Linked DNA regions of Homo sapiens. The protein of the gene in region 1 purifies or fractionates together with the protein of each later gene. This does not show direct contact. Each region holds a gene or a part of one and is shown in the gene's direction. Other genes may lie near its edges. The genes, in order: TAFA5, TENM3, FREM2, SDK2 and DCBLD2.

The links.
Region 2: the proteins of TAFA5 (region 1) and TENM3 purify together in Homo sapiens (affinity purification with mass spectrometry; one large-scale study listed by BioGRID and IntAct). This does not show direct contact.
Region 3: the proteins of TAFA5 (region 1) and FREM2 purify together in Homo sapiens (affinity purification with mass spectrometry; one large-scale study listed by BioGRID and IntAct). This does not show direct contact.
Region 4: the proteins of TAFA5 (region 1) and SDK2 purify together in Homo sapiens (affinity purification with mass spectrometry; one large-scale study listed by BioGRID and IntAct). This does not show direct contact.
Region 5: the proteins of TAFA5 (region 1) and DCBLD2 purify together in Homo sapiens (affinity purification with mass spectrometry; one large-scale study listed by BioGRID and IntAct). This does not show direct contact.

The regions. Positions count from the first base shown.
Region 1 is NC_000022.11:48,649,561-48,653,809, forward strand, and holds part of TAFA5 (chemokine-like protein TAFA-5 isoform 1 precursor), read left to right. Parts: intron 1-4,249. UniProt on the Homo sapiens protein: Acts as a chemokine-like protein by regulating cell proliferation and migration through activation of G protein-coupled receptors (GPCRs), such as S1PR2 and FPR2. Stimulates chemotactic migration of macrophages mediated by the MAPK3/ERK1 and AKT1 pathway.
Region 2 is NC_000004.12:182,249,754-182,254,002, forward strand, and holds part of TENM3 (teneurin-3), read left to right. Parts: intron 1-4,249.
Region 3 is NC_000013.11:38,882,265-38,886,513, forward strand, and holds part of FREM2 (FRAS1-related extracellular matrix protein 2 precursor), read left to right. Parts: 3' UTR 1-4,249. UniProt on the Homo sapiens protein: Extracellular matrix protein required for maintenance of the integrity of the skin epithelium and for maintenance of renal epithelia. Required for epidermal adhesion. Involved in the development of eyelids and the anterior segment of the eyeballs.
Region 4 is NC_000017.11:73,641,082-73,645,882, reverse strand, and holds the start of SDK2 (protein sidekick-2 precursor), read left to right. Parts: upstream 1-1,437; 5' UTR 1,438-1,794; coding exon 1,795-1,858; intron 1,859-4,801.
Region 5 is NC_000003.12:98,806,964-98,811,212, reverse strand, and holds part of DCBLD2 (discoidin, CUB and LCCL domain-containing protein 2 precursor), read left to right. Parts: coding exon 1-19; intron 20-3,038; coding exon 3,039-3,132; intron 3,133-4,249.

The DNA.
Region 1 (4,249 bases):
GGCCTCAGGGCTGCTCAGTGGCTCTCAGGCCTCGGTTCTACAGAGCTGGATCCTGGGGCGAGCTGGGGCAGAGGCGTGGCGGTCTTCTTCCCAGGGAAGGGGACTGCTTCTCCCACAGCCACAGCCCTCCTGGCTGCCTGTATCTGGAGCCACTGGAACACATGGTGGCCGGGGCGCCTTCTCGGGGACACTGATGCGTCTCAAGACTGGGAGGGGGAGAGCGGTGCCCTGCACGGCCAAGGAGTTCACAGCCAGGCCGTCCTTTCTTCTCATTACTTCCGCCCGCCTATCGGCAGAGTTGGGGTCAAAATTGATTACTAATTGAATCTGGGTCTGCTCATCTGAAACCACATTCACTTTCCTCTCACCAGGAGCCTCCTGGTGCCTCAGGAGCCGGGTCCCAGAGACCCAAATTAAAACCGTACTGTTTTCAAGGGAGGCCAAACAAATTAGTTAGCTTAGTTAGCTTTGCTTCTTTTTGCACAGTGGGCATTTTCCAGGCTGCCATCTAATTTAATTTTTGCTTTTCTATTTTCTTGCTCTGCGTGCATAATAAGTTTCCTCGCATGTGAATTGCATTTGCTGAAGAGAAAACTTGTGCTGTGTTGGGTCGGTGTTGGAATTGAATGTGAGTAGGGTTGAAATCGGGGAGGCACTTGCTGCCCCTACCGCGTTCCGTGACCACAGGCGCTCGGAATGCCGGAGCAAGCCTGACTGTGCTCACTTGTCCATTGGTCGGTTTCTTAATTATTCATACATTTGCTCACTCACTCATCTGTTGAAAGAAGATGGATACCCATGGCAGCAGAAGAGGTGCATGGGGAAGTCAACTCAAAACACCCAATACAGAGAGCCATGCAGTGCTGCAGGTGCGGGAATTCAGACTGGGGCCCCAGAGTGCCATCACTTTTTCCCGCTGGGACCTCAGCAAGGATGCATCCATGAGGGGGCATTTGAATAGGGTATTGAGGGATGATGAGGAGCTCACCAGAAATGCTTCTCTTTGTGAAAAGAGGGGGCCAGTGGTTAGAGAGGAATTCTAGCCTCCAGCCTCCCCGGCCTTGTCTCTGAGCTAAAGCATTTCTGGGTGAACCATGTCCCTGCCTGTACAGGGCAGGGCTGTGAGCCTGTGCACCTGCATGCGAGATCCAACTTACGGAACCATCAGTGAAAGATTCAAACACAAACCAGCCACGCACTGTGGCGCTTTCCATCCTTACACACAGTATCAGCCACCGAGCCTCCCCTCCCCCAGGGCTGCCCTCTGAGGCAGGCACCCAGGTGCGTGATGCCCTGGCGGGCTGGCCAGGCCCTGCTTCTGCTCCTTTCTAGCTGTTTATGCAGACGCGCCAGGTTCCCTTTTCCATCAGCACACACGTGCTGGGTCCCGCAGCCACCACAGCACGGCACTGAGGACTGAGACCCTGTGTCCGAGTCCAGCGCTCACCCAGCCCTTGCCAGGCATGCAGTACCTGGCTGTACCTGGCCAGCCCGCCTCGCTGAAGCAAGGTCTTCCTTTATGAAGAGAGGTGCTGTCTCCCACAAGTTGAGTTCTCCTGAAACTCCTTTCCCAGGAAATCAAAGACTGCAGCCCAGTAGCGGGGGCAGCAGAGGGTGGTGGTTTGTGAGCGGAACTGCCCCAGAGCTGAGCCAGAGGGGTGAAGGGTGGTAGCCTCAAGTCTCGGTCGTGGGCGGGGGCAGTTTTCCCTGGGAGCTTTTGGAGGATGGTAAACTGCAGTCATGGCACAGCGCAGACCCATTGTCAGGGCCGCAGTGGCCACTGGGAGGTGCAGGACAGGCCGGGCTGACTGCCAGGTCTGGGGAGGCTGTGCCCAGGAAGGGGCAGGGCCAGAGGGCCTGGAGGTGGGTGTTGGGTGGAGCCTTATATTCTCCAGGCATGAGGCCTTGCGAGCCACCTGGGTCCTGGGCTGGGAAAAGAGGCAGAAAACAGGCAGGTGGGCACTGCCGGGTTCTGGGCAGAGGTATGGTGGCCAGAGTCTTTGCTTCTCTGTGGTTGGGAGTTTGAGGCAGGCGTGGGACAGCAGAGGCCTTGCCCGCTCTCAGGCAGTGTGGATGGTTGGCAGTAGACGCGCAGCCTTAGGCGGGTGGACGCTGAGGCCGTGGGTTTGGCATCTGTGCTTCACGTGTGGTTTAGAGTCCAGGTGTGAAGAAGAAGGGGCACCACGAGGGGGATCTGTGGTCAGCGTCACCTTCCACCCCACGTCCACAGCCCTGTCCTCATCCTCCAGCAGCAGGTCGGTGCGGGAGGGTGGAGGGTGCCCTGGCCACGTACAGGAGTCTGGAGATGGTCCTGTCCTTGCTGTGGGGATGGGGACCACACTGATGGCAGGGCCATTGGACCCTGGGCTGTGGGTCCTGGCAGTGACTGCAGGAGCCAGGGTAGGAGGGAAGTCACTTCTTCTCTTGCCTTTCCCCGTTGTTGACCGTCATCATGCCTAGCTGCTCATGATGCCCTAGCAATGTGGGGTTTAATTACAGGAGTGCAGGAGCAAAAGCCTTTCGGTTCTGAGAGGCTGGGCACAGCGCGTCATCTCCACCTCGAGGCGCCAACGGGGCCCCCAGGGCCAGCTGAAGGCATGTTGTGGCTGGGACTAGGGTGACGGGAATTTTCCACCAGGAGCGACGTGAATCACCTGCTCTATTGTACGCAAGAGACTGGGAGTGCGCCAAGGTCCCTAAGATGCGGTGTCTGTGGCCGAGTCAGCCTGCATCTACCAGTTGGTGCTCAGCCTGGCCAGGGGTTGGCCCCAGGGTGGCAGCTGGAGAGGCTGTGGCTGGCCCTGCCTGCCCCGTTCATCCCTTCGGCAAGTGGTGGTTGGGATAAGGAAGGCCCTGCTTCCCTACAGTTGTTCATACAACATGGGGACATCTGTTTGACCACAGAGCTCACAGGAGACCGCCTGCTGGCAGTTGGCTGTTCATGGGCAGCCCTTCCTGCGTTGAGCCCTGACCACCCTTGGCAGCCTGGCACCCCGCACTGGCCACCCAGCGCCATCCAGGAGGGGGTCTGGGCCCTCACCAAATCATCGAGGCCCTGATCTGAGGAAGGATAATGAAGCTGTTTTTCAGAGGGGCCCAGACCCCCACGTGGAGCACCGGCTTTGCTCTGGGCTGTTTACTGGGCACCCGCTCCCCTAACAACCTTCCTGAGAAAAGGACTCATGTTCCAGGTACCTTCCAGTACGCGACGGAGACCAGCTGGGTACCTGCCTGCCTCAGGAGGCACCCTCTCCACTGCTTAGGGGCATGGACATGTCGGCTTCCTTCTGGGGGCTCAGGGAGATCCCAGCATTTCTGGAGGCTTCCCGAGGCCATGGGCGACTGGGTGTACAGCCACATCCTCAGCCAGGTTGTGGGTCCTGGCCACCCTGGACCCCTCATGGCTTGGGGTCCGTGCTTTGTGGCACAGAAGCTGTGGGTGCTGGTGTGGCCCTCTGCTTGGCAGGCATTGCCAGCCACTGCATCACGCGACCGTGGTGGGGCTGTCAGGACACATACATCTCCGCGCAGACTGCTGCCACCCGCGGCCTTTTTGTTATGGAACCACTGCTGGGAGAGGGTGGCGTGTTATAAACGCTTGGCAAGCGGAGAGGCGCCTGGGGGCTGTTGGCGACACTTTCTTCCCCAGCACACCCCTCCGTTCCATTCTGCCTGGATCCAGATGGGGTTGGAGATGCCCTGGGATGCGGGCACCATGTCCCTCAGTTCTGAGCATGATTGGTTTGTGAGGAAGATGGTGGGAAGAGACCCTGCCCCCGGTTCCCTAGGACGTGGATGTGAATTGCTTCAGTCCAGAGGATGCAGCCACTTCAGGCCCAGCAGGTGGGCAGGGCAGGGCAGGTGTGTCTGCTGTTGGAGCCACAACTCACAGTGCCCTGGCCAGGGCCACTGTGGTGAAGTTGTTTCAGGGAGGAGCTGACTGCCCGGCCCGACCCATGGCTGTGGCGTGAGGGTACAATGGCAACTGTGCTAAAGGCCAAGCACTTTGCTTCATCAGAGCCCAGTTTTACCAGAAGGGAGCAAGCCAGTCCTTCTCCAGCAAGTTACCCAGCAGTTCCTTCCAGATCTCGGTGCGTTTAATTGTTGGAAAACCACACAGTAGCTGCATGGCTCTCTGACGCCTCTGTAGAGAGATGAGACGGTTGGAGCCAGGGTGTTCTGCTGCTGAGAACATGAAGTTCCTTGAATGTCCCCCTCTGTGAAGCGCCCCCACTCCCAGCTCCAGGGA
Region 2 (4,249 bases), on another chromosome or scaffold:
TTTTATTTTTTATTTATTTAGTTTTTTTAGAGACTAGGTTTTGCTGTGTCACCCAGGCTGGAGTGCAGTGGTTCAGTCATAGCTGATTGTAGCCTCACACGCCTGAGCTCAAGGGATCCTCCACCCAGCCTCCCGAGTAGCTGAGACTACAAGTATGCACCACTATGCCTGGCTACTTTTTTTTAAGAGATGGAGTCTCGCTATGTTGTCTAGGCTTAGTCAGCTGTTAAAAATGATTTGATTGCAAACAACTATGTGGTCTGCACTGTTCTGGTCATTTTTCTTTTTCTTTTCTTTTTTCTTTTTTTTTTTTTTTTGAGACGGAGTCTTGCTCTGTCGCCCAGACTGGAGTGCAGTGGTGCGATCTGGGCTCACTGCAAGCTCTGCCTCCTGGGTTCACGCCATTCTCCTGCCTCAGCCTCCCGAGTAGCTGGGACCACAGGCGCCCGCCACCACGCCCGGCTACTTTTTTGTATTTTTAGTAGAGACGGGGTTTCACTGTGTTAGCCAGGATGGTCTCGATCTCCTGACCTCATGATCCACCCGCCTTAGCCTCCCAAAGTGCTGGGATTACAGGTGTGAGCCACTGCGCCTGGCCTGTTCTAGTTATTTTTCAACTGTTACATCTTTTGTTTTAATGCACCACTTGGCCTTATTATCCTTATTTGGCAGATGAGGAAATGGAATAGAAAGAGAAACAGAAAAGTTAAGTAACTTACCTAAGGTAACACAACTCGTAAAGGATAGAGTGAGATTTTGAATGTAGGTTTTCCTTTGCCAAACCCCAGATTTCCCACTTCAGTGTACTACATGTTGGAGGGAAATCGCTAACGAATTTGGTTCATGTTTGGACAGATCAGTGACTTTTTTGTAAAGCCAAAGAATTCTTACGTGTGAATGATTTCCAGCTAGTAGAGAAAAACCTAAACTATCTATAACCTCCAGGAAATTAGTCATTCTGGCTAACCGCATTTTTCCAGGTTAATGAAGATTTAATATTTTAAAAATAAGCATTTTTATATTTCTGTTGACTAAAAACATTCACACTGTAGAAATTCTCACGTAGTGCATAGAATATTAAACATGCAATGGTGAATTGATAAGGTCTCCCGCACCAACTGTCACCTGATTCCAGCTGGAAGCTTATTTAATGGTGCGGCATTTCAGATGGATAAGAATTTGTTATGCAAACAAGGGTTTGTTCACATTTGATTTTCTTAACTATCTAAAGGCTCTAAACAGTGAGAGATTTGCCCAGAGACAAGAGCCTTTCCCACCAATCAGCAGAGCCTCTCAGTGTTCCAGAGTCCCAAAGACATCTTCATTTGAAGGGTTCGGGGCCTTAATTAAAGGACTGCATTTTGAGGTCTGGATTTCCAGGTTATCAATTTTGGGAACTGAAAAAAACCTTTCCACTTAGAAAGTCATCATGGGGGCTGGGCACAGTGGCTCATGCCTGTAATTCCAGCACTTTGGGAGGCAGAAGCAGGAGGATTGGGTGAGGCCACGAGTTCCAGACCAGCCTGGGCAACATAGCGAGACCCTGTCTCTACAAAAATAAAAAATTATCCAGGCATTGTGGCATGTGCCCGTAGTCCTGGCTACGTGGGGGACTGAAGTGGGAGGATCACTCGAGCCCAGGTGGTCCAGGTTGCGGTGAGCCATGATCACACCACTGAACTCCAGCCTGGGTGACACAGCGAGACCCTGTCTCAAAACAAAACAAAAGCGATGATGGGAAGTTGTCTTTTACTGTTAAAATGGAAAAGTGTGGGAGAAAATTAAATTACGGCTATGCTTTTTCATACTAGGTGGGCCTTCTTTCCCAGTATAGAGTCACCCTTTTACAACTCTGAACTTAAGATATAAAATGAGATGGTCGATTGTTTAGTAATCACTAGAATTCTATTCCCTCCTCGAGGTGTAAGTGCTGTCTTCTTAAATGGGAGAAATCTGTTTAAGTTTCATGATACATGCTGACACTGTGTATCTTACAAGTAAAGATGCTCTCTCCAACTTTGGGTTAAAACATGCACAGAACATAAAATTCTTGGTGACTGTAAATGAGATCTATCCATTACAGTGGGTTACTTTATTCATTTCAATATGTTACTTTGAATACCTGCATTTGAATTAAATGAGATTGCTGGCAGGTGCTGTGGCTCATGCCCGTTACCCCAGCACTTTGGGAGGCTGAGGTGGGCAGATCACCTGAGGTCAGGAGTTGGAGACCAGCCTGGCCAACATGGTGAAACCCCATCTCTACGAAAAATACAAAAACTTGCTGGGTGTGGTGGTACATGCCTGTAGTCCCAGCTACTCGGGAGGCTGAGCCAGGAGAATTGCTTGAACCCAAGAGGTGGAGGTTGCAGTGAGTCAAGATTACGCCACTGCACTCCAGCCTCGGCAACAGAGTGAGACTCCATCTCAAAAAAAAAAAACAACAAAAAAATGTGGTTGCTGAGAATGTCACACGTCCAGACCAGTCAATTGCTCTTAATTATTTAAGTATACACACGACTTTCTTTCATTATGCTCCTTATGAGTCAAACAAATATGGAGTGCAAAGCTTTTAAGACCTCTAAAATCTCTCCATCAGTTGTATGCTGCTGTGAGAGTAGAAATTGCTTTCATGGAGATTTGAAAGGGAAAAAAATTTAAATAACGATGTGATTTAGTGTGCAGTTGGCAAATCAGCATACTTAAAATACATGAATATTAAAATAAAGAATGCAATAAACATAACTACTGACTTACAATTTATTGAGCAACTGACTTTTAAATAAGATTTTTTCCACTCAGACTTTCTTCATAGACCTTCAGAGTCCCTCCTATTGTTATTTTTTTCCAGATCACTGTTACGTAGAGGCTTATCCTACTCACAGAATTTACCTGCATATTTAAATGGCATAATTATTATAAAAAGGCTCTGGGATACCTTTGGGCTCAGTACTTTAGCTGAGAAATTTTATACATAAAATGACACCTGGCTAATAAAAGGAAGCAAATCGGCATTTATTCAGTGTCCGTTAAGTGCCAGGAGCTTCACCGTGTGTCTCATTTAATCACATTGCAACAGTCACAACAGTCCTTTCAATTTGGAGCAGTAGTTGCTCTTAGTTCGGCAGACAAAGAAACCCAGCTTCATGTAGGTGAAGAATCGGCCCAAAGTCACAGAATTTGTAGAGCAAGGATCTGGACCCAGGCCTCTCTGTATCAAAGGCCTTGGCTATATTTTCCCATGAACTCTGCCGGCAGACACGAAACTACCTCTGAAAGGAGAAAGAAAATGATTTTTTTATTTGTTTGTTTTAAACAATAGAGGCTTTATCTCTCTTGTGTCACATTTTACTTTAGGGTTTAACACAAGTCTGTGAACATCCAGAAACACTGGCTTCATGTTGCTCCATCATCCCCAGTAAGAATTATACCAAGAGGCCGGGTGTGGTGGCTCACACCTGTAATTCTAGCACTTTGGGAGGCCGAGGTGGGTGGGTCACCTGAGGTCAGGAGTTTGAGACCAGCCTGGCCAACATGGTGAAACCATATCTCTACTAAAAATACAAAGAGTTATCCGGGTGTAGTGGCACGTGCCTGTAATCCCAGCTACTTGGGAGGCTGAAGCAGGAGAATCACTTGCACCCAGGAGGCAAAGGTTGTAGTGAGCTGAGATCGCACCACTGCACTCCAGCCTGGGCGACAAGAGCAAAACTCTGTCCCCCCAGAAAAATAACAGAAGATTTATACAAAGAAATTTATGGGATTATATGAAATTTTCCAGGCTTCAGGCTGAATAGACCACTTTTATATGGAAGGCATACTTCAGATATCTTAGATAAATGTTTTCTTTGATAAAAAAAATTTTGAGCTTCTCCTTGTAATATTTGTTTTTCTTAAATTGCCTCTCCTTCCTCCACACAATCATTAGCCTCTGAAAAATAAAGATATATTATCTTTTTAAATTGAAGCAAACTTTTATCTTTTAAGATTAATTGACATTATCTAATCTATTTTGTTTAAACGAAGTTCATACTTACAAGAGGGATTGAAAGTGAAGTGACATTTGCCTCTAAATCGAGATAGCAGATGTTGCAAACCCAGTAAATGCCTTAAAAAAAATACAGTTTACAGCAAAAAGTAAACTCTGAAAGAAAACACTGCAATCAAAATAACGATACACTTGATCAGCTTTAAAACTGATGTATACATTTTGTATATTTTATGTTTGCCTTTAGTCAGTCTACATTTC
Region 3 (4,249 bases), on another chromosome or scaffold:
TAATGCCTACAGATTATCCTTCAGATGCTGGCTAGAATCCCCTTTGACTTCTAGCCATAAGCTGGCCACATTGGACATCTTGGTCACTGCAGAATTTTAAAAGGCAAACTTCTCAGAACAGATGTGCACATCTTAATTTGGTGTCTGTAAGTATCAACCATTTCTTGATCAAGATAAGGAAGCAACACTGATACTGAGAGAGAGGTCATATGTCCAATAGTTGCCTTTCTTCTCTTAGGCAGCTCTGCACTTCATGTTCAGTTTTTTAAAAATAGACTGTAGTATCCTTTCATTGGAGAATTTACAAAAATATCATCTACAGCTCAAAAGTCCCACTAACGGCTTATATGAACAGAAAGTACTGTGTAGCCCAGGAGTTTATTTAGCAAGATAAATAGTGGTAATTTCTTAATCATTCCCCTTTCCTTTGCTTTACCTTCTGGCAGATGCTTAGCTACTTCTTTGGCTACCTCATAATTTGTATGGGAATGAACATGAATTAGGGAACTTCAAATAGTGCGTAGACTTTTCCCTACTTACCATTGGGTTCAATTGATGTAGACTGTTAGAGCAAGTATACTCAATCAACTTGCTGATATTTTAGTAGTTAACAGCTTCCGAGCCTATCATGCAATTTGGAGTCTGTCAATGAATATAGCAATCGGTGAAGCATTACTGTACGAAGTCTGTTTTCAGGCTTTGGGTCAAGCTGGTTTTATACCAAATTTCACTCTACAATGCATATTCTAATGAAGCTACTTTATATAAATTGGAGAGCTTATAAAATGCAGAACATTTCTATCCTATCCTACCAAATATTTATCCTTCTCTGTCCTCTATTCTCTTACTCTCCTCTCTCCCTTTTTCCTTCCCTTTATTCCCTTGAAAAAAGAGAATCTGTGGGAAATAGGCAGATATAGCTTTTTAAAATATAAAGTACTTGGGATTTTGCATTATTTTTCTTAATATCTATTTACTAAGTATGTAATTTAATATACATTAATTATTTTTTGAAACTCTTGTTAGTGGGAAGAATATGGTAAATTTTTTGTTAAATAAAATAGACCCTTATGTTTAGCATTTTGTTTTTAGAGAACTATTCTGGTACTATCAGAACAAATACATAAAATAACTTCCCATAGAGAACAGGATATAGCAATAATAGCTCCTTAGATACTCAGTGGCTTCTGACTCCAATCAAGGTCTTGTTGATATTATATAGTAAAAATAAAACCAAAAATAAATATTATTCAAGTGGCTCTTCTAAGCATGTGAATCATGAAGCACTGAAATATGTATTTTAATGATGATCTTATTTATTCCCATTTTTGCCCTTAGTTAACATTTACTGGTGCTCACCTAGGATTGGCTATTCTGAGGGATTGCATAGAAACCAAGCTCCACTTGCTGTCCTTGGGAAGGTTATAACTGAATGCAGCTCTTTATTTGGACTAAAGTGTCAGGATATGCATTAGATTCTCTCCTGAACCAAAAACACAACAGTCATTATCTGTGAACCATAATTTAAAAATCTTTCTAGAATAACAACAGCAGACTCCACTCTTGTTTGTCTAAAAGAGCCCTACTGGGTATGGATCATTCTGATGACAGATTTATACAAAATGATTCAAACCAGTAACTTAGTAAAATTGACCTTCGCAAAACCTCACTGGGGGAGTGCCTTGTAGAGCTGTGGGTGGGACTGCACATTCTTTTCCTCTTAGTAAAAGATAGGCCCACTTTATTCCAAGAATAACACTTAGCACATAAACTCTTCTTCCAGCTCGTTAGCAGCATTAGCACCTTCTGAATTCCACCCTCTCAGAAGAATCCACAGTGTTTGAACAATTTGCATAAAGGTCAGCTAGCATCCTGCTGCCAAGCCACTGCATAGCATTTGTGATAAGAAGGACCAACTCTAGGCTCAATATGAAGGGATTTAGTTCTGTAAGCAGCAAAAAAGCTTCTTTATCAAGTCATCTTACCTCTAATTCTTTTCCAGTGTGCCAACTCCAAAGTCAACATTAAAAATGTAAATGGACCTGTGTAAATATCACAGAGAGCTTTTCCTTATACATCTCAATGCTGAGAGTTAAAATATTCCCAGGTTAAAATTTTTTTAAAGTACCAATAATAGAGCTAAATACAATGACATTTGCTTTTAAAAGGTGGATATTTTATTTCTGCTTTTTGAAAATACTTATTTAGTATTGACTTGGAAGCCAATTTGGTCCTTTAATAAGTAAAGAAAATAATATGTTTAAAAATGTAAATGTTTTACAAATTTGAAACTTTCATAATTGTATTAATCAGAAAACAAGCACATTGCCATTCTTTGAAACTCATGTTTCTAGACATGACAGCAGTAATAAAAGGATGAAAACAAGTGTCTTCACTAAGCGTATGGCCAATAAATGGGACCCAAACGTTCAATCTGTTCAGTTTACCAAGGTTCAGAAATACGTAATTTAGCAGGAAACTATAAATACCAGTGCTATCACAGCCACACATACACACACACAGACATAAAATAACCAAACATCTCATTTCTAGGAAAGAGATAACACTAAAGGCATCATAGGTTTAACTGAAATACGTTATATGAAGTTTTACAAAAAGGTCAACAGAAAGCTCATTTGTGAAAACATACTCTCATGGGAGCTTCTTTAACATTAGTTCAGAGGTTAATATATTTCCTGGAGGTGTTTTCCTAGAATTGATTGCACTATTGCATGGTAATAACATTTAATTGTTAAGGAAACATTATATATAGGTTCAAATTATCCCTTAATGTTGATTTCTCCCCTTTTCCATGGATTTTGATACTAAGAAACAAAATGCTTTGAGATTTTGGTAACTATTTTGATTTTGATAAAACATGTTAAAATAGAAGGACATGATATTTTTCTATAGTTTCCATCAGGAAGAGTACATCAGAAACTTCTCCATAAGGAAAGAAAACTGACTCTCTCTTGAACTAGTGTTGACAAAATACACTAATGTCTTTCTTAATTTTATTTTATTAGGAGAAAAATCAGAATATTAAATTTGCAAACTTTTGAACAGCAGTAATAGCTCCTTAGACACTCAGTATCTTTCTTCCCTATCTTTCAAGCACATTTAATTTCTTTCCCCTGGTATTTGTTTGCTTTGTGTTTTTTCAATATTTTGTTTGCTAAAGAACAATAACAACAACAAAGCTGGTCCAGCCCTGACACCTACTTTTGCTTTTTTTCTTTCTTTCTTTTAATTTGTTGAACTATAGGTTTCTTTCTGAGATGTATTTTTCATTCTTCCAATAATGCTCTCTTTTTCATTTCAAAACCATTACCACTTTCAATATGTAATTAACATCCTCATTCATCAGAAAGCTGGTAAGTCCACACAGCATTTGTGCAGTATCCCTTCTGTGTAAAATGTTAAGGCTTTCAGATGAAAGAAAAAAGAACTTCCTGCAAAAGATCAAAAGCATCATACTAAATAAAATGATGACAATATGTGCCTTGATTTTTCTCTCAATGGAGGTTCAACATTGACATTTAAGATGTAAAAAAAATTACTTTGATGGTTTAATTAAGAATAATAAGTCAAATATCACATGTATGTAGTTCTTTTGGATGACCGAATACCTTAAAATGAACTAAATAACTGAAATAAAGTGTTAAAATGTTAACAGCGTTGAAGTTTTTAAAATTATAATTATCAAATGCACAATGTTCTTTTACTATGCCAAATGTTGCCTACACTGATTACATGATTGTCACAGTTTAAGTGAATTTCTACTATGGATCTTTATTTTCCCCAATGTTTGGATCATCCTCTCAGATAAGAATTGTCAGTATTGCACCTCAAGAAAGAAGAAAAAATAAGAATGTAAATTTTTAAAAGCTAGCATTAAAAGTAAAGAGCAGTACAATAAAAATCACTTAAAATAGAGAAAGGCAACTACTGAGTAAGAAGAAAAGATAATTTCTGTAAAAGCTAAATTTATGCACATTACAAAAAGTAGTCAAGTCAGTCTTCCATTGTGACTTCAGGAATTCAAATGCAAGTTGTTGGCAAAATATATATATACACACACACACACATACACACACATATATGTACATACATATATATATAGAGAGAGAGAGATAGATTTTTTTTTTTTGAGACAGAGTTTCGCTCTTGTTGCCCAGGCTGGAGTGCAATGGAATGATCTTGGCTCACCGCAACCTCCGCCTCCAGGGTTCAAGTGATTCTCCTGCCT
Region 4 (4,801 bases), on another chromosome or scaffold:
CGCCTCCGGGCTCTCTTGTTTGAATTCCTCCACCAATGTCCGGTTCTTCTACTCTTTACAAGCTGGGCTCCGAAGGAAAAAAGAAGAAACAAAGAACGCACGCTCCTTGGCACCAACTTCACTTTCTCAGGCTTCTGCAGGTCCCAGGCCTCCCGATGTCTCCCCCTCCGCCCTGAGCATTTCCAGACCTTGGAGAGCCTGACTTGGGAAGGGGAAACTGGAATCAATCGGTTGACCGACCCCCTTTTCCCAACCGCCGCCTCCCCACCAATCACTCCATGTCCGGAAGGGGGCTGGGGGCTCCCGACTATAGGAGACTCTGGGAGTCCTATGAGGCCTTTGAGACAGGGGCGCGAGCGAGGCTGGAAGGAAAGGCTGGGCAGAGAGCGGAGGGGCTCGCGCGCATCTCTCCCGGCGCGGCAGAAGGTTGGCACTGCTGCCCCCCTGCGGGTCCCAGAGCCGCTGGGCGCCCGCGGCCGCGCAGTCGGATTGTATTTCTGCGGGGCTCGCTCCCGGGCCTGGCTCGGGGCCGCCGCCGCCGCCGCCGCCCCTCCCGGCGCGCAGGCTGCTCTCCAGTCGCGGCCACGGGGTAGCGCTCGGCCCCCCTCTCCGCGTCTCCGCCTCCGCCGCGCTCGTCCCCGGCTCACGCTGCCCCCGCAGCTCCGGCTCGGCGCAGGCAGGAGCGGCTCTCTGGACGCCGAGCCCGGGAAGCGGAGGGCGGCGGGCTCGGCGAGCGGCAGCGGCGGCCGAGGCGCTGGGGCGGCCGTTGCTCCTCCGGCCCGGGAGGTCGGCGATCGCCGGGCGTCCGAAGGGGCGCCGCGTCCCCGGAGCCGGGGCTGCCCGCCGGGCTCTCCGTGCGTCTTCCCGAGAGCTCCGGCCGGGGCGCGGCGGAGGGCAGAGCCGCCGGTCTCCATCCTCGGGCCGGCAGGAGGCTCTGCGCCCGGGCGCCGGCGACAGCCCGCGTCGCGAAGCCCAGCACCCTCCCCCGCCGCCCCGCGGCTGGCGCGGACATGGGCGCTCAGGGCTGCGCGCCCGGCTCCGGGACCCGCAAAGTTTGCTAGCCGGCTGGGCGCGGAGCCGAGGGCGCGCCCGGCCCCAGCGCCCCCGGAGGAGACCCGGCGTCTCCCGATTCGGCGCGAGGGCGGTGGAGCCCAGAGGGGGTGGTTCGGCCCCGCCAGATGCTGCCTGCAAAGTTAGAGAGAAGAAAACTTCAGCTCCAGGGAGATTCGGACCGCTATGCTCACCGCGTCCCCCGAAACCGGCGCCCCTAAAAGAACCCCCGCACCCGCGTCTGCCACTGCGCTCGGCTCTGGCCGGGTCCCGGGGGCCCGGCGCCTGGAACGGCGGTGACTGCGTCGGCCGGGAGAACCCAACCAGGGGGCGGGGAGGGGGCGGGCAACGTGGCCACGGGAGGAAGTTTCCTGAAGTTGTCCATTTATTCCGGAGCTCGGCCGGCGACCCGGCCGGATCGCAGAGGCCGCCCTGTTTGGGAGAAGTCGGAGTTGGGGTGCTAAGGGAGAGAGGCGCCCTAGTCCGAGAGGGCGGCCTGGCCTCTTTCTCCCTGCTCGCCCCTCGCCTTCCGGGCGCGCTGCCGGGCTCGGACTAGTACAGAAGAGGAGGAAGGGTTGGGGTAGCCAAGCGCTGCCCCTCCCGGGCATATTACACCCCGGGGCACGGAGCCGCGTAGACTGACTGTTTCCTGGGACTAAGCCACGGGGTATCGGACCCCACCAGGATTATAAAACAGGGCGGAGGGAAGGGAGACCCCGAGGACCCCTCTCCAGGCTGGTCACCATGTGGGGGCTTTTGATCTGGACACTGCTAGCTCTGCATCAGATCCGCGCGGCCAGAGCCCAAGGTAAGGAGGGACCCCCACGTGGGGACAGGGAGGGGGCTGGGAGAGTGGGCGGGGGAGGGGCGGCGGGAGCTGGCCGGCCTCACGGTGACCTCCTGGACACCCGGCTTAGCCGTGGCAGAGCCCTCTCCAGGGAGTTTCAAGACACCCCATCTCCCAAGTTTTGGGGCTCTTTTGGGGGTGGGGCAGTCTCTCCGAGACTTGTGGCTTCCGAATGGGGGAAGGTGGGGACGACCTGGGGAGGCAGAGAAGAGCCCAAGGTGAAGTGGGAGGGGCGCTCCCCTCCCCCCGTCTGCTGTGGCTGCCCTGCGCCGGCTTGGGAGGGGAGCGACATTCCGTGCCGGGCTCCACGCTCGGCTACGCTGAGCTTCCCAGACCGAGCTCCTGGTTCCCTGCTCGGTGTCTGCGGGGAAGGGCAGGGCCCCTGCCGGGCAGGCGATGGCCTCCCCGGGGCGAGGGAGTGGGGTGGGCGAGCGCTGGATGCCGGGTTGCTCGCCCGGGGAGAGCAATTGCCCGGCTTGGCCACGTACGGGAGCCCGCCCCTGGCTGCTCGGCCAGCCGCTGGGGCTGGGGGTGCTTCGCTGCGCGGGCCTGGAGCCAAGGTCGCGGGTGCAGCCGCGGACCCACCGGGGGGTGGTGCACAGGGAGGGTCTGAGGCCTCCCCTCCTACCCATCCACCCACACCCAGCATCCCCGCCCCTGCCTCCAGCCTCCGCTGTTCGCTCGATAGTCTGTGCAGCCGCTCGCTGCTGTGACCTGTGGCTGCCGGGAGCAGCCTCGCGGTGGAGAAGGGCTGGTGGCTTTGGGTTTGGGAGTGCTACGAAGGATCCGAGGTGTGATCTGCGCTGCCCGCTTCCTGAGGGTGGATGCCCAGACGTCCCCCTGGTCCCCGGGCAGGTCCCCGAGGTGAAGGGCGGCTGCACCGGCGGTTCCTCGACTTTGGGGTTCGCCGATCCAGACAGTGGTGTCAGCGGTGTCCGAGCGGCGCCTGCTGGGGGCGGAGGGAGACGAAGCCTGGACCGAGCTCCAGGACTCGCAGGGCTAGGCCTTCACTCTCGCAGGCTCAGGAGGGGGCCAGACCCACCCTAGGGGTCCGGACTGTGGGGGCTGCAACCCACTCCCCACGCCGCCTCGTGCGCCAGGCAATCCAGAGAGCCAAGATCAAAGAGATGAAAATAATCAGCTCTCACTCACAGGGCTGAGGGGAGGATTTTACGAGGTAATTTACATAAAAGCACTTCGAAATTTTGTAACGAGCCCTATAAATGTAGGGTAATAAAAGTTATTATTTTTATGATCATCATAAAATCTTTGAACAAGCGAGGACCTCAGAGGTCATCTTATTCTAGTAGCCATTTAACAGATAGGGAAACTGAGGCCAAATGGCATTAAATGACTTGCCCAAGGCCACTCTGTGATCTGGGGGCAGAGGCAGGTCTGGAACCAGATGAGTTCTGAGCCTCTCTCCCTCAAACCAGGACTAGCTGCATGGGGTCTCCTTGGTCTGGGCCCCCTCTCTGAGGGGTCCCAGGAGGACCCTGATGCTGGCAGAATAGGAATGGGTTGTCCTTCATCCTGGAGCAGCCTCACAGTTGTGCTCTGGGACAACCAGTGTTACTAGCCAAAAGCCTGGACGGCGTGGAGGGACGGGATGCCAGCATCTGTCTGGACCCTTCTAACTTCATTGCTCTACAGACTTTTCAACAATGGTATGATTTCCCTGGGCAGGTGGCTCACCAATTCTTGTCTCATCTAGGACCAGGCCCTTATAGAGTCCCCAGGGCACCTGATGGCCCTTGCTTTGGGGTCTTCATGTGTCCCTTCCTGCCCCACGTCCACACCTGTGCCATCCACTTGAGGCCAAGATCCCACCCCTCCTGCTGAAGTTAAGGCCAGGTGGCCCCCTGTCCCTGCGCCTCCTGCGGGAGGGGCTTCCCTGTCAGAAGCAGAGAAAGTCTCTGTGATTGATTCACTTCCTCTCTGCCTTTCTTGTTTGCTGGCTTTTTGCGTGTCAGGCTGCCCAGGTCCCCTGCTGCTCCGCTCGTGTTCTCTGGCTCCGAGAGTGTTTTCCAGCATCGAGCCCTCTCCTGCTGTGTGTGTCCCTGGAGGCAAGCCTTGCAAAGGATTGTGGGAACGTGGTCCTAGGCTTGGCAGTGCTGGGTTTGAGTGTTGGAGGGGGTGGGATTAGGGCATGAGGTCCTTTCTTATCTGCTTTGGGGTTAGAGAGTGAGTTTTTTCCAGTCTCAGGCCATGACATTAATCCTTTGGGGGGTAGCTGAAGCCACTAGCACTGTCATTTCTGAGCCCACAAGCCTGCTTCTCCAGGCATGGCACAGAACGAGGGACGAAACAATTGTTCCTCCCTTGAGACAAACTTCACATCGACCACTGTCACCAGATTTTATCTGAGCCTAGCCTGGTTGGTTTTTTTTGGGGATGGGGGGTGGGTGCTGGACCTGAGCGACATCACCTGGGTATACTGAAAGCTAACATTTGACCATTGGCCGTATGCCCGATGGGTCACATGATGCAAACTCATTTCCCAAGCAAAGTGCAGTGAGGTTGTAGAAAGAGCATTGGCTTTGGCAGCAGAAAGAACGGGCTCTCATGATCTGGCTTTGCCGCTTCGCTGAAGAGAGGCCTTCTGCAAGGCTCTTAGCCACTAAGAGCCTCAGTTTCCTCATCTGTACACTGGCAATAATAGCTCTTGCCTTGTAGAATTGCTAGGAGAATTCAAGATATTCCAGGGGCAGGGCCCCAGCCAGTGCCTGGCACATAGAAGGTACTTAATACATGGCAATTATTATTCTTGTTATGACGGTTTTAACATTAAGCTAGAAGTCCATGAAGAATGGTACCCTGCCACCCACCAATAAGACCTTGAATTCTTTTTCCTTACCCAGGAGGTTTCTTTAAATTCCTTCCATGGCCACATCACTGTGTCTC
Region 5 (4,249 bases), on another chromosome or scaffold:
ACTCCAAATGTAACCAAAGGTATGCAAACATGGAAATGAACGCCTAGTACATAGTATTGTTTTGTTCTTAACTGAAGTTTTCACGGGCATTTTTAAACCTTCAGTTTATTTTCTTCCAACTATAGTTTTTAAGTATAGCAAAAAAAAAAATTTATTTTCTTTCATAGGAAAAGACTGCATTGATCTAAGTTGTAGTCTCTGCTGCCATGTAGAATTGCTCTTTAAATATTTAGAGAAGGCCACTGTGTTGCAGGCCTCCTCTTGTGATTTATTGTTCCTTACAGCTAAACATGTTGACTCTCAGGCTTAGAAATACAATATTTTCTAGAAATAACTGAAATCATAGCAGGAAACAAACTTGTTTCCCTTGATAATATATTAATTTGATGGATAGGGAACTTGATGGCAAAAAGGGGAAAATAAAAACAGAACTTTTAGTAGAAACTAGTAATTGTTAAAAAATACTCATAGTTAACATATTCATAAAAAAAAACTTTGGTCTCTTTTTAAGTGTTTGCAATTATATTTTTTAAGATCATAAATAGAAATTTATTAGAATTTACTTTCAAGTTTTGTTATCAGTGATAAATAAGGTCTCAAAATACATAAAACATAGTAGTCTTACTAGTTGTTGAAAAACAAAATTTCAATTGAATTCAAAAAAGTGTCAGTGTCATAGTAGACTAAGTATCAGAGTTGTCACATAAAAAGCTTCCTTGTTTTCAGGAAAGTGCAGAGAGAGAAAGCCGTTCATCCAAAGTAATTTGTGCCACATAGAACTTCAGTCATTCTCATTTTTTGAAAGTTTGCCTGGATTCAGATAACTTTCTCTGACTTTCCCCATGTTGGTTCTTTCCCATCTTCTGAAGTATTTTCACAAAGATGAATTACTTTCTCATGCTGCAGGTACAGCTAGAGAGAATCAAGGGTTCTCAGAGGCAGGAGATCTCAGCATCTTTTAACTGCTTACCAGTTGTCAGAAGGCATGTACTAAGGCAGAATCCCAGACCACATGCCTGGATGGAGATCAGTCACTGAAAAGTGTTGCTCATCTTAAAATCTGATTGCATCTCAGACCCTCAAGGCTAAAAAGAGTCCTTAAATAATTTCCTTCCAGAATTAGGATCCCTGTATGCCCAAAAAGAATAACAAAGAATGAGTTGGTCTTCTCAGAGACCTCCTGTCTCTTTTTTAGGGGGATGGTAGTATATAAATTTATTTTTTGAACCTAAGAAGATGTTTTAAAGCCTCTGATTAAATCACACAGCATCCATCTAAACTTGATTATCTTCTCTTGTCTCACTAATCTTATGGAAAAAGCACATTTACCGTTGTGAATTCTGAGTGCTTTCTAGTCTAAGTCATTATTTCTGTTTATGGACTTCTCCATTTTTACAGCCAGGCTGAGAGTGATTTCATGGAAAAGATTATGTCATGGTCAGATTTGTGCCTCTGTAGTTTCCAGGTCCTCCCTCAGTGGGGCCCGTGGCACCAGCTGGCTGACCTTCTGAAAGGCTGCAGTAGCTCTTCTGTCTGTTCTCAACTGTAGCTATTTTACATATTCCCCTTATTTTCAAGCCCTTCACCCAGATATCTTCACCCACTCTCAGTTACCGCTCCAACTTCACAGAGAAAGTAGGGAGTTTCCTTCCAGTGAAACTCCCTTTTTGTGGAGCCTACAAACCTATCTGTATCCTCTGTTCACTGCAGTGAAAAGGGGGCTTCCTTATGTTGCCCAAGGCTGATTATATCACCTGTGCCCTGGTTCCCCTCGATCTACCTCTCAGGGACCCAATCTTACTGATTATCCTCTCCCCCTCCTGTATCTTCAGCCTCTTTCTCTCTTTTGGATACAGTTGTTTTAAGGAATAAAGAAGATGGTGCAGGTTAGACTCATTGCAGTGTCCGGCTCTGAGCCCCCAGTAAATATCAGCAGGTGCTGCTATTATCATCTTCATGGCAAGTAGGGGGTTGAGCGACAAAGGAAGAAACTAATATCCCAAGTGACCTTAGGCAGATCATTTTCTATATCTGGGCCCAGAATTCCTTATCTCTGGAGTGAAATTAGGGGATTAAATGATCCCTAAATCTCTCCCAGTTCCAGCATTATGCTGGCTTCTGACCTGGTCACACACACATTTCCAATTGACTTTCTTAACACCACATTGTTACCTTCCCATATATATATATATGAATGTTTTGCCATTATGATGTAACGTCATTTCAATTGCTGGATTATTTTCTCTTGTAAGGAGGATACCATGATTTATTCCCTCTCATTTTTGGGCATTTGGATTATTTCCAATTTTTCACTCTTACGCAGAAACAGGGAGAACATCTTTAAGGATGCATCTTTTTTTAGTTTCTGAGAATAAATTCTAGGAATGGAATTGCCAATAGATTTTTGTACATATTGCCCAAAAATGCCAATCAGTGAGATAGCATCAGTTTATATTTCCATTAAAAAATAACTGTTTCCTGGTAGCCTGTTCATCAATTAGTTGTTGTTTTAAATATTTGCCACTTTGATTAGCAAAAGTAGTATTTTGTTGTTTTAACTTTTTTTGTGTTGGTTGTTTAACTTGTATTTCTTTGATTACTAGTGAAGTTAACATATTTAATGGTTACTTGTATTTTTTAATGTATTACTAGTTAATCTCTGCTGATTTTTCTCTTAAATGTTTGGATTTGGCTTGTAATGCCCTACAATATAATAATTATTTAAAGTAACTCTTCTCATATGTAGAAAATATATTTTCCCAATTTTTCATTTGTCTTTCAATTTTATTTTAGTGATTTAAAAATTTAGGAAAATTTCACATCTCTACACAGATGGAATGAATAGTGTAACAAGCTTTTGTGTATCTGCAAAAGCTTCTACAGTTACCACCACATGCCCAGTCTTGACAAATAATGTTTATGGTATTTCCGTGAGGTAGAAAAATGTTGAAAGATGATGTGGTTAATTTTCCCTAGTGATTTCTGCCTTTGGTGTTAATATGGCTTTTGTTTGTCTGTTTTTGTCTTTGTAACTTCAGATGTAGCGCTGGCTGCAGTTCTTGTCCCTGTGCTGGTCATGGTCCTCACTACTCTCATTCTCATATTAGTGTGTGCTTGGCACTGGAGAAACAGGTTAGTACATAACTAGTTCACCTGAGTCCAAAACTACCAAATGTGAAGTAGAAGCTAAATATAGAAGATGAAAATGTTTACCTGTTTGAGAGTGAGAGTTAAGGTAATTATTAAAATGAAAATTTCATGCTTCTCCTTTATTCCCATTAAAAATAAATAAGTTCAATTCCACAATCAGTTACTAAGTACCTTTTTTGTATCAAGTTCTGCATTATACACTGGGATATGTACATTAATATGAACAATTTCTGACACATGATAGTTACATTTACTTAAAGAATGAGACACAATTCCTTTCTCTGAAGTGTTTAGCAGGGTTGACTAACAAGGAACTATATCATGTGGTTTGATGAGTTATGAACCATGAGAATTAACTGAAGTTTTTTCTTCGGGAAAGGGGACTCCTCAAGTTTGGCTTGCTTTGCCTTAAAGGAATTGTAGTTGGCTAGATAGAGGAAGGTAGATGTCTTTGTTTGGGATGCTGTAAGAAAATACCATAACCTGGGTGACATAAATAATAGAATTGATTTCTCACAGTTCTGGAGGCTGAGAAGTCCAAGATCAAAACACTGCAGATACTATGACTAGTGAGGGCCTGCCGTCTGGCTCATTCATCAACAGTGCCTTCTTGCCCGATCCTCTCATGGTGGAAGGGATAAACACGCTCTCTCAGGCCTTTCCTGTAAGGGCACCAATCCCATTCATGAGGACTCTGCCTTCATGACCTAATCACTTACCAAAGCCCCACTTTCTAACGGGGGTTAGGATTTCAACATATGAATTTTGGAGAGATGCAAATATTCAGACCATAGCACTAGCAAATGGCCCAACCTGAGCCAATTGTTTGAGTGAAGGCACAGAGATATGGAATGTAGGCAAAATAGTGAGTCATCGCATGTACGCTTGGCGTGGGAGAGTCCTGAGAAATAACCATAGAGGTTCAGTCTGGGCCTGGATCAGGAAAGGCTTTTCTGGAAGAGAGAAATTTAGATTTCATTCTATAGATGGAAAGTCACTTGAGTGTCAAGCAAAGAGGTGATATTGTCAGATGATTGTACAAAGATGGTGGCAGTTTTGAAGGGTAGATTGAAGAGGAGAGAGGCTGAGAGACTTAGCA